2 separate regions of the Homo sapiens genome follow, and region 1 is linked to region 2. The links come from fine-mapping of genetic effects on gene expression. Tissue or cell type: aorta. Region 2 holds a variant in brackets; the other region holds the start of a gene. All regions are shown on one strand. Distances are from middle to middle.

Region 1 (8,099 bases), 41 kb before region 2:
TAGATACAGGGGAACAGAAGAGCAACAAGACACATAAGGTCCTTCCTCTCTTGGAGTTTACAGTCTATTTGCGGGAGTTGGGCATTAAATAAATCATTATAAAATAATTACTGAGTTACAGCTGTGATAGCTGTTATAAAGGAGAAGTGTAGGATGACAAACTTTCTACTCATGAAAATCAAAGAAGTCTTCCTGGAGGAACTGACATTTTTTAAAGCTCAAATTTGCAGAGAAGGGCATTAAAAAAGCAAAGCAGGGAGGAAGAGAGTAACTAGGAAGAGAGGAAGGGGAAGAGGGTGTGTTGAAGACAGAAAGAAGAGCATGAACAAATACTTGATGACAAAAACGCTATCCTAAGAGTGAAGAGAAACCCAGTGGGTCAAGAGTGTGCTGAGTGAGGGGGTGATGGGGGTATAAGTTGAAGCAGGAGAGGTGGGCATGAGCCAGATCACGCAGGGCCTGACAGCGCGGAAGAAGGATTTGATGTTATCCTAAGGTTATGGAAACCTACTGAAGAGTTTTGACTAGGGAAACAATAAGACCAGGTTTGCTTGTTTGTGTGTTTTATATACATAAATCTAAATGTACTCATAAATATGCACAGCAGAAGGTCAGACATATCATACAGATTTTTTAAAAGAATGCAGCCAATCATCACCCCATAACTATACAGATAGAAACAGGAGTGTTGGTGGGGTGGGAACAGCGGGAGAAGGGAGGTGGCCTGGAGTCTGAAGAGGTATGCATAGTTCACCTTTTTGTTTGTTTTTAAAGACTACATGTTCATCTGATTTGATGCCAAGGTAGTATTTGGGTAAGCCAGAACAAATCCCCATTTAAAACTCTCGCCCTTCTTTAAAAGTTTCAAGAAATTTTCTCTTCAAGACTAACCTCATGTGGGTGGTGTTGGGGACCACCTACAGGGCGTCGTTTGAGAGGTGCTGAAAGATGACCCCTCGCTTCAGTGTACCTTTTCTCTGTCCTCCATTAGAACCTAAAATTCTACCATCACGATTCTACTTGGCTGGATTTTCAATTGCCAGATTTGCTACAAGAGTAACCCACTGGATCTAGTCTGCCTTCCTGGGACTGAGCTGGTTTGACTGCATTTTCTCAGGGATGGGAAGGTTTGAAGCTTTTAAGACCATTGACCATACAGGGGTGTGGAGGGGCCATGAGATGGGTAGACTACAACCCAGAGGGGCCCAATCTCCTTTTCTGACATCAATATTTTGTCTTGGGTTGGCTCTGAGATCAGCTGGTGTGTACAATATGGGTATATGTGTAACCATGTGCAGATTTAAATAGTAAAGATACATGGGTGTACTTATGATATGTACATGATTTTATAAAATGAAAAGAAACACAGGCCCCGGGATTAGACCAACCTGAGTTCAGATCACAAGGTTTGTAACCCTGGGAAAGTTACAGTATCTTACGGGGTGGTTGGGAGAATTCAATGAGATAATATGTTTAAAATCTTAGCATTGGTCAGTGGCATACAGCAAGTGCTCCATAGGTGTTACTATTATTAAGATTATGTATGTGTGCACCCTTACACAAGTGTATGCATGCATCTGCATATAGGTGCAGATATGAGTATGTAAGGGAGATAGAGTGTGTTTAAGAACAAGAGAAAGAATAATGAAAAATATCGCCAATCTCTGCAACAGGAGTTCCAGCATAGGAGTGGCCCTTTTTACGGAGTGAGACCACTGCAGGGCACAAAGGAAACTGACTCAGCTTTACTAAGTGGGAAACAGAGTAAGAGGACAGTAAACCTCAAGAGCTTCCTTAGTGGCACAGACTCAAGAGTAGAAATTAATAGAAGGAGACAGGCAAGCAGAATGGGATGTGATGTTATCAAAGCTCAAAAGTGACGTTAAAAAAGTAATAGTTGAAAGTGGTCTCTGAAATTGTCCTACATCAAAATTAGGCCTCCGTGCTCAGAAAATAGATAACCATCGGCTCCATCCTAAAGTTCTGGGCCACATGCATGTTTGATGTTTTGGAACTAACATGAAAGAACGTGGAAAAATATGTAAACAATGTTTTCAGACCTCCTGGTCTCCTCTTAAGATTTTCCCATTGAGCTGTGTCTGAACACTCTCTGCATAATAAATAATTGTCATCCTTACGTCTAGAGAGAAGATATAGTAATAACAATAATTTTAAAAAGAACACCCAGTTTCTTTCTCTTTTTTTTTTTTTTTTTTTTTGAGACGGAGTCTTAGTCGCCCAGGCTGGAGTGCAATGGCACAATCTCAGCTCACTGCAGCCTCCACCTCCCAGGTTCAAGTGATTCTTGTGCTTCAGCCTCCCAAGCACTCCCAGCCAACACACCCAGCTAATTTTTGCATTTTTAGTAGAGATCGGGCTTCACCATGTTGGCCAGGCTGGTCTCAAACTCCTGACCTCAAGCAATCCACCCACACCTCAGCCTTCCAAAGTGCTGGGATTACAGGCATGAGTCACCGCGCCTGGCCTCAAACACCTAGTTTCTAGTCCCAATTCTGCCCCTAACTCACTGGACAACTTCAAAGAATCCCTTGATCTTTCTGGGCACAGCTGCCTCATCTGTAAGAGAAAGTGAGTAGCCAGTTTTGTCCATTATCTTTTGACCTCTTGCCCTCTTAGGGGAGGCTTAGCTCCCTTGAACCACCTCTTCACCTCTTTTTTTTTTTTTTTTTTTTTGTCGCCCTGGCTGGAGTGCAGTGGCACGATCTCAGCTCACTCCAGCCTCCGCCTCCCAGGTTCAAGCGATTCTCCTGCCTCAGCCTCCTGAGTAGCTGGGACTTCAGGTGCGCACCACCATGCCCAGCTAATTTTTGTATTTTTAGTAGAAATGAGGTTTCACCATGTTGGTCAGGATGGTCTTGATCTCCTGACCTTGTGATCTGCCCACGTCGGCCTCCCAAAGTGTTGGGATTACAGGCATGAGCCACTGCGCCTGGCCAGCCTCTTAAAGTTATATCACTCCATGACATTGTTAAGAGCACAGCCCACTTGCCTTCTGCTAGCTGTGACTCCCGAGATGAGTTATTTATCCTCTCTGTGTCTCAAGTTCCCTCATCTGCAAGATGAAAGTAAAGAATAGTTTAGTGTCTCCTTGGGTTGTTAAGGGGTTAAAGGGCTAACACAGGTAAGGTATTTAGAACAGTGGTTGACACAGATAAGGACTACCCTGGCATTAAGATTGTTATTATTCACTTAATCGGATACCTTTGTAATTTTACATGAAATGTATTATCGATAAATCAAAAAATAGAAATATAGGCATAATCTGAGGATATGAAAAGACTACAGTGGATAACAGGCAGGAGGAGAGCTTGGAGGCCACTGCTTTTCCTTTTTTGAAAAAGCTTCTCTGTGCTTTGATTTTTCACGTATGTGTATATACGTGACACTAGTTTTTTAATTTAAACAGATTGAGCAAAAAGATCACTAAAGTCCCTCTTATCTCTAAATTCAGAGATTGACTATGATTTTCAAAGAGCAATATTTTCTAGGTGTCCGACTTATCCTTGTTTTCATAGCTTGACCATTTTTACTTTTGACCTTCCCAGGAAATCCTTATGAAGATTTAAAATAAACACAATCACTTTGGTATGTTTATAATGGAGCAGGTTCTGACTCCTTGGATACTACAGAAAACGGGAAAGGTGAAAATATGAACTTTGTAAATACTTGGCCTTAGGGACTGGCTTATATTTTACCTCTTACAATCTTTTCCCAGAAGCAATTCAGTAAACTGAAGGAAAGATCATAAAGTTAACAACTGCAACAACAAAAGCGTGGTAAGTAGGCAGCGCCCTGGCAGTGAAAGCGTTAACAGGGCTGGGTAAGGCGATCCCTTGAAATGAGTAAGACTGAGTGGTTAAAGTTTTCAAAGCGGTTGGCAGCAGCGGCGCTTGGAGGAAAGGAAGCCGGTTGGAGGGCGCAGCGCACCCCTGCTGCGCGGAGGAGGGGGCTGAGCTGAACTCAGCAGAAGTTACATGCACAAGGTTAGTGGCCCCCACACGCCTCCCCAGCCCGCTGCCGCGCTGACATCTTTGGAGAGGAGGCTTAGGAAGGCGAGGCGCCATCGCTCATTCTCGGTCGTGTCTGTCCTGCTTACTAGTCGCTAGTGGGGCCACTGGCCTTCTCGCCAAACCTCTGGGCTCGGTGCTTACCGAAGCCCTGGCACTTGTGAGGGACAGCTGACTTCTTCCAGACTTTTCTAAACTGGAGGCTTCTTTTCATACATCCAAAAGGAAACTTGTTTCTGGAACAAGTACTGTTTTCAGAGTACACACACACACGACCCCTACCTGTATATGCTGCCCCAGTACGGTTTTTACAGGTCGTGACCACAATCCAGAATTCCTATCTGCTTCATTTGAAATTGAGAACAATGTCAAAGTAACTAAACAGGCTGCACTACTTTACCTTGTGGGAGGAACATTGTCTCTGAGCCTAAGGTAATCGGGATGAGGAGAGAAAAAAAAAAAAAGATGAAAAAAGAAAAGAAACAAAGCTTCCAAGCACCCTGACCTGTGGTTAAGGCAAAACAATTTTTGGAAATGGGTTTCTAGTGGAAATTTTTCTTGTACATTGCTAGAATCATGTGGGAAGGTATATTGTGAAGGAAATAATTCTACATCTGCATGAGATTCAGATAAACTTACCCACCTAAACTAATCTGCATGTGGTGCAGATAATAGATACATTTAGATTTAGGGGAAGGAGGAGGAGGAGATAGCTTCACAGAAATTGCGTTCGGAGGGGGCTTTGTTGTAAGAATTGAGACTGTCCAGGAGCTTTCCCCGGGCAGGGGGTAAAGGACCTCTTCCCGCCCTGGCTGGTAGAGAGGGGTTGGGGGGCCACTTCAGCAGGCCAGTTTATCTCCCTGCTTTCCTGTCCACATAGGCAATAAGCAGTCAGTCTTGTGCTGAATGTTCCCTCTGATCCTCACAGCAAGCACGAGTTGAGTCTTATACCTGCTAGCATTGAATCAGAATGAGTCATTTGAAACTTGGGTGCCGGAACAAAGTACTTGCAAACTGCCTTATGAGACACTGCCTCAATGTAGGTGGGATATACCTCTCGGAGCAGTCACATTTTTTTTTCTCTCCTCTCCCTCCTTCAAGCAGGCAAAAATTCTGACGTTCTCAAGAGACCAGCTCTGCCCCCGTGGCTCAACTGACCCTACCATGTGGACGCTGCTCCTCCAGGTGGGAACTGGAGTTTTGAAATAAAATGGATGATTTGACGTTACTTGATCTTCTGGAGTGCCCTGTGTGCTTTGAGAAGCTCGATGTCACAGCCAAAGTCCTCCCTTGCCAGCACACCTTCTGCAAACCATGTCTACAGAGGGTTTTCAAGGCCCACAAAGAGCTGCGGTGCCCCGAATGCAGGACGCCTGTGTTTTCCAACATTGAGGCGCTGCCGGCCAACCTGCTGCTCGTGCGCCTTCTGGATGGAGTGCGCTCAGGGCAGAGCTCCGGGAGAGGGGGCTCCTTCCGCAGGCCTGGCACGATGACCTTGCAGGATGGCAGGAAAAGCAGGACCAACCCCAGACGTCTGCAGGCCAGTCCTTTCCGGCTAGTGCCTAATGTCAGAATCCACATGGATGGGGTAAGAGAGATCTTATTTGCTAATATCATGTCCACATAGAGGTTGGATTTGTGTATACAAGGAGCTAGAGATTATCTTCTTTTAGTTACATTCCAGAGTGCTGCTGTTGATTTCCCAGTGATAAGTTTCTGTGGGCAGTGATCATTTTACTCAAATACAATGAAAACCTGAGCCTATCTAATCCATCTAAGAATTCTCTTTAGAACTATTAAAGCTTCCTAGGTTCTCCTTTCCTCTAGTCCAGAAAGTAGTAGAACAAGGAAAGCCTTTTAGATTATATTTTTGGTGTTTCACTTCTGCTGTTCTGAGGCCAAACTAGTGCCTGGGAAATGCACGGAGGGTGGGGAGAAACAAAAGAGAGAAAACAAATCCAACTGCTTGTTGCTTTTGAGATCTCTCAGAAATTTCCAAATGTCAGGTTTTGTTTGAATTTTACCCAAATCCATCTTCCCACCCCTAGTCATAAAGTGCTATTATGGCAATACTCATTCATAATCTGTTCCAAGCTATCAAGATACTTGACGCGGGAGATAGTGCAGGAGGGAAGCATCTATGTGGGTGGACTGATTGATAGCAAAGGCTGGGCTGTGAAGTGCTTCAGCTGTGTATAGGAGCTCTGCAGATGTGTCTCATTTTGCAAAATGAATGAAATACAGAGAAGATACACAGCAGGGGCTGCAATTAAAAAACCAAACAGACCCAGTTACGCCTCACAGGAGATTAATGCTTTTCATGTTTGGATAATGGGAATCGCTCTGTCCAGCGCTGAAAGCACACCCCGAGGACTTTATCTGACCTGGCTATGAACCTTGTTGTGGGATAATGTGTAAGGGCACATCTGGAAAGAAGGACATGGTCCTTGTGAGTCCAGCAGAATTATTTGCACTGTCACCCCTGGAGTCAGTGTAAAAAAGTGGACACGGAAAGCTGTGGCTTGGGCCATTGGCATACTTAGAAAATCAAAGCTACATTCCTTGAAGTCTTACCTAGAGCAAGCATTAGAGTCTAAATGCTGGCAGCAGTGTCCCACATCTCCCTGCTCTGAAGAGGAATAACGTGTGGGAGGGTCTTGCAGGACTGCTTCCTTACTCAGGAGTGAGGAGTGGCTTGTGATACGCATTTGGAACAACTTTCCGAAATTTTCCTTCTAAGAGCTACCACTTCCTGGGTTCACTGCATCTTTAAACCACCCATGGCGCATGTGTAAACATTCAACAATGAGGGTGGGAAGAAGCAGGACATTTTTTCACTGTACACCCTTGATTTCTTCACTGTAGGCTTTTTATTGCCATTGTGCTTGTAAGTGACACATTCCAGAAAAGGGTTTGGAACTCTTTTTAAGTCCCTCCACTACCCCTGGTCTAGTCATCAATCAGAATCCACAGGTCTGGAAATGGCGAAGTAGGGGTGGGGAAGCAAATTGTTCTCAAACATGCCTTGTTTGTAGAGAAAAGAGCTCTATCTCTGGGTCAGCAAATCCCCCTTGAATTCCTAAGACCTAGCAACCTCTTCCCTTCCCCACCTTGCAGAAGTCTGACCTGCCTTTCAGCGGAGTATCATCACTTACTCAGGAAACGGTGTCACACTGGGAGGAGGCAGTTCCCTTATCAGCTTGGAATATTTTTGTTGTGGTTTACATCTTTCTCAATGTGACTGTGTTGCAAAGGACAGGTAGCGATGAATGGATCCACAGCTACCAAGTTTTTGAACTATAGAGGATTCTCAGGGCCCTTCTGGCACAGGGAATTGAGGTGAGAGCTGGTTGTACATAAGAGACAGCCATTAAGATACTGGGTCTCTCTGGAATTCTTTTGCAGGGACTTATAACATCAGACTATCGTCTGTGCCCACCCTCCAAGCTGCTCTGGACCAAGTCCTGTGGTGAGGCTGAAACTCAAGGGCTCCTGTGTTCAGGCAGGACCTGGGCTAGAAAGATGCTCTGCAAGAGAGCAGAGCTGGCACCCCCACTTCCCAATTCCTTTATGTCCTAACTATCCTTTCTTGAAGTGACTCCTCTCATTCCTTTTGCCTTCCTCAGTGGGGATATGAACAAACCTATTTCTGGATGTCAATATGGCTGCTGTTCTGCAACGTGCCTCTGCTCCCAAAAATATTACCTATCTTTTTTGCAACCATGAAAGCAACCATGCATCCCACAGTTAAGAGAACTGAGGGTTGTCTGGATGCCACAGTCTGTTTAGAGAGTCAGAGGAATGGACTTACATCCTCGGTCAAATCCTCCTGAGTTCCTTGCCCTCTCTGCCACAGTTCAGCCAATCTAGTCAAAAGCTACTTGCTACCCACCTTCCTCCAGGATAGTGTGAAAATTATCTTTGCAACATACTTTTACTGCCTTAGAAAACATCTGCTATGTAAATGCAAAGCATCATCATTAAGATTCATTTAGACATGCTGTATGACTTTGGGCAAGCCACTTATGTTTGCTGGGTCTCAATTTAAAATTCTGTAAAATGGGAAGATGT
Region 2 (8,108 bases):
TTAGTGAATTAGTTGAAAGGGGTGAGGAAGAATTATGAAAGTTGTGAATGAGTAAAAAGGGGTGAGGGAGAATTGGAAAAGAAGGGACATTCATTTTCTATGCTGTGTAACAAATCATCACAAATTTAGAGGCATAAAACAACACACACTTATTATCTCACAGGTTCTGTGGGTCAGGAGTCTGACACAGCCCAGCTGAATCCTCTGCCATCAAGAGGTTGGTCAGGGTAGGATTCTTATCAGGAGGCTCGACTGAGGAAGGGTTCACTTCCAGGCTTGCTCAGGTTGTAGTCAGAACATTTCCTTGTGGCTGTAAAACTGAGAACCCAGGCTTCTTGCCTGCTGTTGGCTGGAAGCTTCCTTCAGCTCCTAGAGATTGTCCTCAGCTCTTTGCCATATGACCTCCTAACACAGCCACTTCTTCAAAGCCAGCAAGGGAGAGAGTGTCGAGCAAGACGGAATCTTATATAACATGAATTAATCATAGGGTAGTGATATCTCATCACCTTTTTTATGTTCCATTGATTAGAAACAAGCCACAGATCCCACCTATATTCAAGGAGAAGGAATTTCATGGGGGTAGGAGCACCTTTGGTCATGGTAGGAATCATGGGGGCCACCTTAGAGTCTGTGTTCCAAAGATGGATAGGAAAGGAAGGAAAAGAAGAGAGCAAGAAGAAAAGAAAAATGGAGGAGAAGAATGTATCTATGTATATATAGCATTTATTAACCATATATTATGAGCAAGGTACTGTGCCAGTTATCTTCACATGCATTTTATTATGTAATCTTTCTCCAAACCCCATGTGGTAGGTGTTAACTATTGTAACGACTTACAAAAGAAAACTAGAATTCAGAGACGTGAAGCAAGTTTCCTGAGGTCGTACAGTGCAAAAAGTAAAACTAGGAGTCACACTTGTTTCTGCTACACTCTATAGCCCAAGCTTTACCTACTACCCTGTAGTTTAAGAGAGGTGGGAGAAGGAGGAGAAAAGGAAAGAGATGGAGAAATGAGAGATAACAGAGCTTCCAAACATATGCAAAGTTGTTCCTAAAAGAGATGACAATCAATAAGGAAATCTGTAGGTCTACAATATATTGAATCGGTTTTCCCAAGAACCACCCAATTAAAAAAATAGAATCTAGAACTGAAGCCTGTGGGATCACAGATGAGTCTCATGTGTCTGAACTCTTTTCTGGCCCACCTGAGTTTCAGAACCTGGAACCAAACACTACAGCCAAGCTATGTCCAGAACCTTGGAGACACCTGGCTCATCCAGGCAGTGCCCTACACGCATGTTCTGCCAAGCTTCTGTGGGAGAACATCTGGGCCCAGGCAGCCAGGCCAGGGCCTGAGTTTGTTTTTCATGGCTCGTTTGCAATGTCCTGTTCTATTTCTGGACACTCCGTCCTTCCCAACTGACACTGGAGCTCAGTTTCCCAATAGCCAGTTTAACAAAATGGCTCCAAAAGTGCCACTCAGCACTAGTCATTGGAAACCAGAATTTTCCATCATTTACTCTAAGAAGGCTGGCTGAACATGGCACATCCCTGACTCCTGTCTTAGTTGGCCAAGTCTCTCATCTTAGAGGGGCAGCTGCAGACATCACAGGAAGCCTCCTCATGCAGACACAAGGTGACTCACAGCAGTGAGAGGAAAGAAAGGTATTTGGATATCAGATCCCCCTTCCACCAAGTGAGGGAAGGCAGGTGTGCTAGTCCTAGCTCCCACCCCAGCTGTCTGCACTCTTTGACTTGATAACAGCCCCAGCTGGTTCCCTCTGTGCACTTCTGTCCATCTTTCCAGAGTGGGAGATGAGCAAGAATATCTGTGATCTTGGTGGTTCACAGTCAGCCCTGCTAGAGTCTAACCAAGCAATGAACCGTGTTGAGTTCAAACTTAACACAGGACCACTGGACCCTTGGCAGAGAGCCAAAGGAAACAGAAGATGTTGAATCATTCCCCTACTGGGGCAGTGCCTAGCTGTGGAGCTGTAGGGCTGCAGACAAATCCCTGCTCTGTGCCTCACATCCCTTATCTGTAAACTGGAGATAATTAGAGGCCCTGCCTCGTGGATTGTTGTAAGGCTTAGATGAGATAGTACATTAAGACATGGTATCAATTGACCAATAAATGTTACTTACAGTAGGCACTCAATAAGAGATCAATGGTGTTGCCTCAAATACATCATTATACAGCTTGCATAAGATAATGACAGGTCACATACACACCAGTGAAGAACCTTCTTTTGTAACGAGGTGGGTTTTTAGTAAATATTTGTGGAACATTAATCGACTTAGAATATTGAACAACTACAATAGAGAAGCCACTTCACATAATGCTACATAAAGAGGAATAATTAACAAATGCAGGATATTGCAGGGGAAAGAGGCCAGGATTCGCCCTCAGACCCCACCACTTACATATCAGCTGTGTGACCTTAGGCAGGTTAGTTCACCTCCCTGAGCTTCCAGTTCTTCACCTGTAAAATGGTTGTAATACCTGCCTCATCAGCTGGTTGTAAGGATTGAGTGAGATACTGTATCTAAATGCACTTTAGCCCAGTTCTGGACCCACAACAAACTCAATAAATGATGACTTTTATTAGCTATTTTGCAGACTAATGGAATTAAGAAGGAAAAAAAAAAAAAGGTGGGGGGCGGGTTTTGGAAACGCACTTGCCTAAAGGCTAAAACACTGACTGCTTGGAAACCACCACGTAGTTTCACTCCCTAAATTGAAAGAAAGAATGCCTCATTCAAGTGCCTGATTAGGAATTTGAATAATCTAGTTCTAACTAGAAAAGTCAAGAAAAACGGAAGGTATTAGTCATTGACTGATAGAATATCTGAGCTGGATAGAATCCTAGACCATATTGACCAGAAGTGACTTAGCCACTGTCACATAGTTAGCCCAGGCAAGACTAAAACATGATACAAAATCTTGCATGCCTAAGCCATCGATTAATAGCTGGGCTTACTAGCCAGTTATCCCCATGGTTCTCAGTTAAAGGTCATTTGACACCATATAGAGGTCACCCACTGTGTGGGCAAGTCCTGTTGTTTCGGTTAGAGCCTGTATAATAAGGCATGTTGGAAGAGGAAGTCCTTCTAAGACTTACTCATAAAGTACCCCCTTCCCAGAGTCTGGCTCATGCCCTTATTTGTCTATACACACTCTAGGCAAAGTAAGAAATTGTTGCAGTGAAATGCACTCATGTGCTCATGCCAGCTCATGACCTCAGCCAGTCCACACCTTCATCTCATTTACAGATGGGAAAACTGA[G/A]GCTTGGAGAAGGTTGCCTCGGCAGAGGCCAAGCAAGGGGAAACTGGGGCAAGAGCAATATCTTCTGATTCCTAGTCCAGGGCTCTTTTTCTTAGGCCCGACTACCTCCTGCACATGCTAAAACAAAAGACAAGACAAGGTAAGCTATTGTCGCTTATCATCTACACTTTGTTCTGACATATATGGTTACTATTTTTCCACAGACCATGAGGAAGGGAACTAACAGTCACTGAACACCAATCATATACTATTGATGCCTTGCTTACATTAATTCTCATCACATACAGTAATAAAAGCTAGTACCTATTGAGTACTTACTGTATGCCAGGCACAGTTCTAGGGGCTTTACATATATCTGTACAAGGTACCCAGCCAAGGAGATACTCTGTAGGCTGAATTCAGCCTCTGCTTACCAAGCTCTGAAATGGGACCACATTAGCCCCATGGTAAGAGTGCCTTTTCATGTAACTCCTGTGCCCAAAAAGATGCCCTTTCCAAATGTACACAAAGACAGGTATGGACATGTGGTGGGGGTCTTACAGTATCCCCATATGGCTGGTCCTATTACTATCAGCTTGCTGAGATGTCACAGCTAGTTTGTGGTAGAGGCAGGACTTGAACCCAGGATTTGGCCCTTAGCTCACATTTAGCCTTCCCAAGAAGCAGCTTGAGATAGGCTCTAATGCTACATACACATATACCTCAAGAACAGACATTCTGACTGCCTTGTTCCCTAACGTAGCTCCTGTATCTAGAACAGTTTTGGCACACACAGGCACTCAGTAAATTTTGTGGACTGATTGACCCCTGTTTCACAGATGCAGAAACTATGTGTCAAAGAAGTTAAATGACTTGCTTAAGGTCACACAGATAGAAAGTTTAGATGGGATTTGAAAGCAAATCACTGACTCTAAAACCCTTATTCTTTCCAAATTAACATCCTGTCATTCATAAGCATTTATTGAGATTCTTACACACTAATTCTGTGCTCTGGAACATAGGGCCAGAAAGATTTGTAAGATTTGGTTCCTACTCTCAAGAAACTGGGATTCCGATTATCTGCAAAAAATCATATTCCTGAAATCAGATTCCCTAAATGAAAGCAAGTCCATATGGTATAAGCCCTTGGTACATTTTAAGCCGAGGATACCTTTCCTACCTCCCAAACCTAAGATTATAAGAGTGGCCACCAGAGCCCTCACCCTGGTCTATTTCCTTCTACAACACTGGCCAGCACATTCATAGAACCTGGTTGCAGAGATAAGTCAAATCACTGCAAACTTGGGATGGCCAACGCCCCATCCTAGCTTCTCTAGATTCCTTTGCAGGGATGTCCACAGGGTGCTTTTATATATGTCTTCATGCCCTCCTGCTTCGTCTACTCTTCATGCCCCATCTAAGTGTTTTTGAAAAATGAAATACTTAAGTTAGAAAACCAGACTTAGCAAGTTGTACTTCCAAAAGCAGCAATCATTTCAGTAAATAAACATTTTCTGATTGAGAACATTAATTCAGGGTTTACCTCATTTTCCTTCCTGGTTTTGTTTTCTACAATATTTAGGAGGCAGGAGTTAGTTAGGAGGGTGGTTTTAAGGAAAAAAAAAAAAAGAAAAAAAACACCTCTAAATTCATTAGTTGAATTCCACCAGACTGTGTGAACAATCTCATAATAATCCTACATCAATACGAGAGAAGTTGTAACTAGTTCACTTAGGGTAATTATAGGGCAGGTTTCTGCCAGGTTTTAAAGATAGACTTTGAAATCTTCCTTTTTTTCATTTGCCTCCTGCTGTGTGTGGGGAGAGGCCCTGGCTCCTGGGATATCTGCCAGAGCTAAATGGGGGCCAACTGGAGAAACAGGCACCAAGATTGGGTTCCTGTTTTCCTGTGCTCATACTTCTGGGAACACAGATATCCTACCAAATGGTCACCTGTGAAAAACTCAGGGCCTAGAATCTAAATTCTGTTGGAAAAGAACTGATTAAAGTCCTGGCCCTAAGTAAGATTATGGCAAGGTTTATAGCACAAAATTTCTGATTTTGCGCTAGAACAATAGTTCCCAAAGTGTGGTCCCCAGACCAGCAGGATTACCATCACCTGGGGGAACTGGCTAGAAACACAAATTCTTGGGCCCCACCCCAGACCTACTACAGAAGAAACTCTTGGGGTAGGGCCCAGCAATTTATTGCAACAAGCCCTCCAAGTGATTCCAATGCACCCTAAAAATCTGAGAATCAGTGTCAAGGGACATGATGTTAAACAGCCTTTCCAGGAGATAAGAGTTACTTTTAAAGAGGGATTTGTTCAAACAAAGCATATCTACAAATATCCAAACAAGACCTTTGGAATTAGCTAGAACTAGGCTCTGCCACTCACCAGCCATGGGGCCTCAGATAAGTTATCTTACTGCTCTAAGTAGTGGTGTGCTGGTAAATGTTTAACAAGCAGCTCTGTGGGGGAAATGGGTTCGCTCATTTTCATGGCAGAAATACCCCATCATGGCTACTTTCAAACTATCAACATGATGTCGGCCAACTCAAAAAACTTTTGAAAATTTAACAATTGGCTTTCACAAGCCCATGGAAGCTGGCTCCAGCACACCATTGTCTCTAAGACTCAATTTCCTTATCTGTCAAATGGATGAATAATAGCGTTTACCTCATAGGGATTGTTGGAAGGTTGAAGTGAGAAAATGATAGTGGACTTTTATTGAGTATTTATATCTATCCACCAGGCACTTACTATGCATTATTCACTGACTTCTCAAAACCATACAATAGGTACTGATATTCCTTCCATTTTATACATGAGGAAGTTGAGCTGAAGTAACTAGTCCAAAGTGATACAGTAGCAAGTGGGAGAACCTGAATTTATTCCAGAGCCCGTGAGGTGACAGAGACATTAGCCCAATGCTCAGCACGGGGCAATGCTCAGTAATTGGGAGCTATTATCATAAGATAAATAAACTTCTGAAACGTGCCCTACTTTGGAAGTAGGGATGAACAGTTTGTGTTGGATGAAACCTCTCAGCCCCAGAAGACACATACATTTTCTTCTAGGAGAAAGGCCAGGGTACCTGATGGGAGGACCAGCTGTTGATTATTCATAGTAACAAACGACAAGAGTTGAAGCTAATTGACACCCACACGTAACGAGGCAGTTGTAAGTTCCTCCCCTCCCCAAATTAATTAGGTGTATGTTTTTCCAGGCTTTATCTTTGTGTACACATACACATATGTATTTTGTATTAGATCAGGGTGTACATATTTTTTTGCAAATTGCTTTTCTTTTTAACCTGAGACTAGATCATGAATCTTTCCCATGACAGTCCACCCCAATCTATCTCATTCTCTCTAAAGCTGCTTAGCATTCCACAGTAGTTACTTGCTATCATTTATTTAATCCACAACAGAAGGATACTTAGGCTATTTCTAATTCTTCACTATTATAAATGATCCTGCACTTCACAATCTTTTACATAGATTCTAGCATATGTCTATGGGAGAAATTCCTAAAACTAGGATTTTTAGGATTTGTAAGGCAAAGAAAACACGTAATGTAAATCTTGACCAATGTACCTAGTTACTCCTCACTGTGAAATTTTAAGCTCCCAATATTCAAGGAAGGTGCCTTTTTGCCCATACTCTTACACCAACATTAGGATTACTCTGATGATTTGATTTTTCAAACTTATTATAAGTATTTCTAAATATAAAAATAGAGAAAATAATAATAATGAATGCTTATATACCTATCGCCCAGCCTCCACAATTATCAACATAAGGTCAATCTTATTGCATCTATATCCCATTCACTTCCTCCCCCTACTGGATGAAACTGAGGCAAAGTCCACACATCATACTCTTTCATTGGTAAATATGTCAGGAGCTGCCTCTAGAAAATGAAGATTCTATTTTTTAGCATAACCTCAACATCATTATCACATCTAAACATTTCTTGATGTCATCGCATATGCAGTCAGTGTCTAAATTTCCTCAATTTTTTTTCTTTTTTCTTTTTTTGAGGCAGGGTCTTGCTTTGTCACCCAGGCTGGAGTGCAGTGGCATGATTATAGCTCACTGCAGCCTTGACTTCCTGAGCTCAGGTGATCCTCCCACCTCAGCCTCCCAATTAGCTAACACTACAAGCATATGCCACTACACCCAGCTAATTTTTTTGGCTATTTTTTGTAGAGACAGGGTCTCACCATGTTGCCCAGGCTGGTCTTGAATTCCTGGGTTTAAGTGATCCTCCCACCTGAGTCTCCCAAAGTACTGGAATTGCAGGCATGAGCCACTGCACCCAGACAGTCTCATAATTTTTTGATGGTTTGTTTGAATCAGGATTCACCAAGATCCACACATTGCAGTTGGCTGATAAACTTCCTAAATCTCTTAAGCTCTAGGTTCCCCCACACGCACACCTCCTCTTCCTTTTTCCCATGCAGTTTATTTATTAGAGAGATTGGGTCATTTGCCTCGTAGTTTCCCACTTTCTGAGTTTTTCCTATTGCATCCCTGTGTTGTCATTTAACATGTTCACCAGTCTCTGTGTTTCTTGTAAGTGATAGTTAGATCTTGAACTATGCTGTCTAACACAGTAGACACTAGCCACATGCAGCTCTTCAAATTTAAATAATTAAAAGTAAATAGAATTTGAAATTCAGTTCCTCAGTCACACTAGCACATGGCACATGTTCAATAACCACAGATGGGCAGTGGCTGCTGTATTGGACAGCATAGAATAGCACATTTCCACCATGGCAGATAGTTTTATTGAGCAGCAGTGCTTCTAGAGGCATCACAGGATCCTCTGATAATTG

Direction of the effects. Alleles are on the strand shown, and positions count from the first base shown. SD is a standard deviation of normalised expression in the study named.
As copies of A replace G in region 2, the expression in aorta of the gene that starts at base 3,888 in region 1 goes up (moderate effect, 0.56 SD a copy in GTEx).

Evidence for each region. PIP is the estimated chance that this variant, and not a neighbour inherited with it, causes the effect.
Region 1: it holds the start of SH3RF2, and the variant in region 2 is fine-mapped to the expression of SH3RF2 in aorta (GTEx, PIP above 0.99).

The regions. Positions count from the first base shown.
Region 1 is chr5:145,932,691-145,940,789 of GRCh38, forward strand. It overlaps SH3RF2 (SH3 domain containing ring finger 2), which reads left to right and starts at 3,888. Exons shown (of 10, transcript NM_152550.4): 1 at 3,888-4,004; 2 at 5,133-5,616. The coding sequence starts at 5,239. It overlaps LOC107986458 (a long non-coding RNA gene), which reads right to left. Exons shown (of 4, transcript XR_001742913.2): 4 at 3,011-3,073. RefSeq lists an enhancer at 3,626-4,203.
Region 2 is chr5:145,973,805-145,981,912 of GRCh38, forward strand. All of the region lies in intron 2 of SH3RF2 (SH3 domain containing ring finger 2), which reads left to right. All of the region lies in intron 3 of LOC107986458 (a long non-coding RNA gene), which reads right to left. Among named protein-coding and RNA genes, the nearest start is that of SH3RF2, 41 kb to the left of the region's middle. RefSeq lists an enhancer at 5,542-5,836. The variant G/A (reference allele first, on the strand shown) is at 3,287.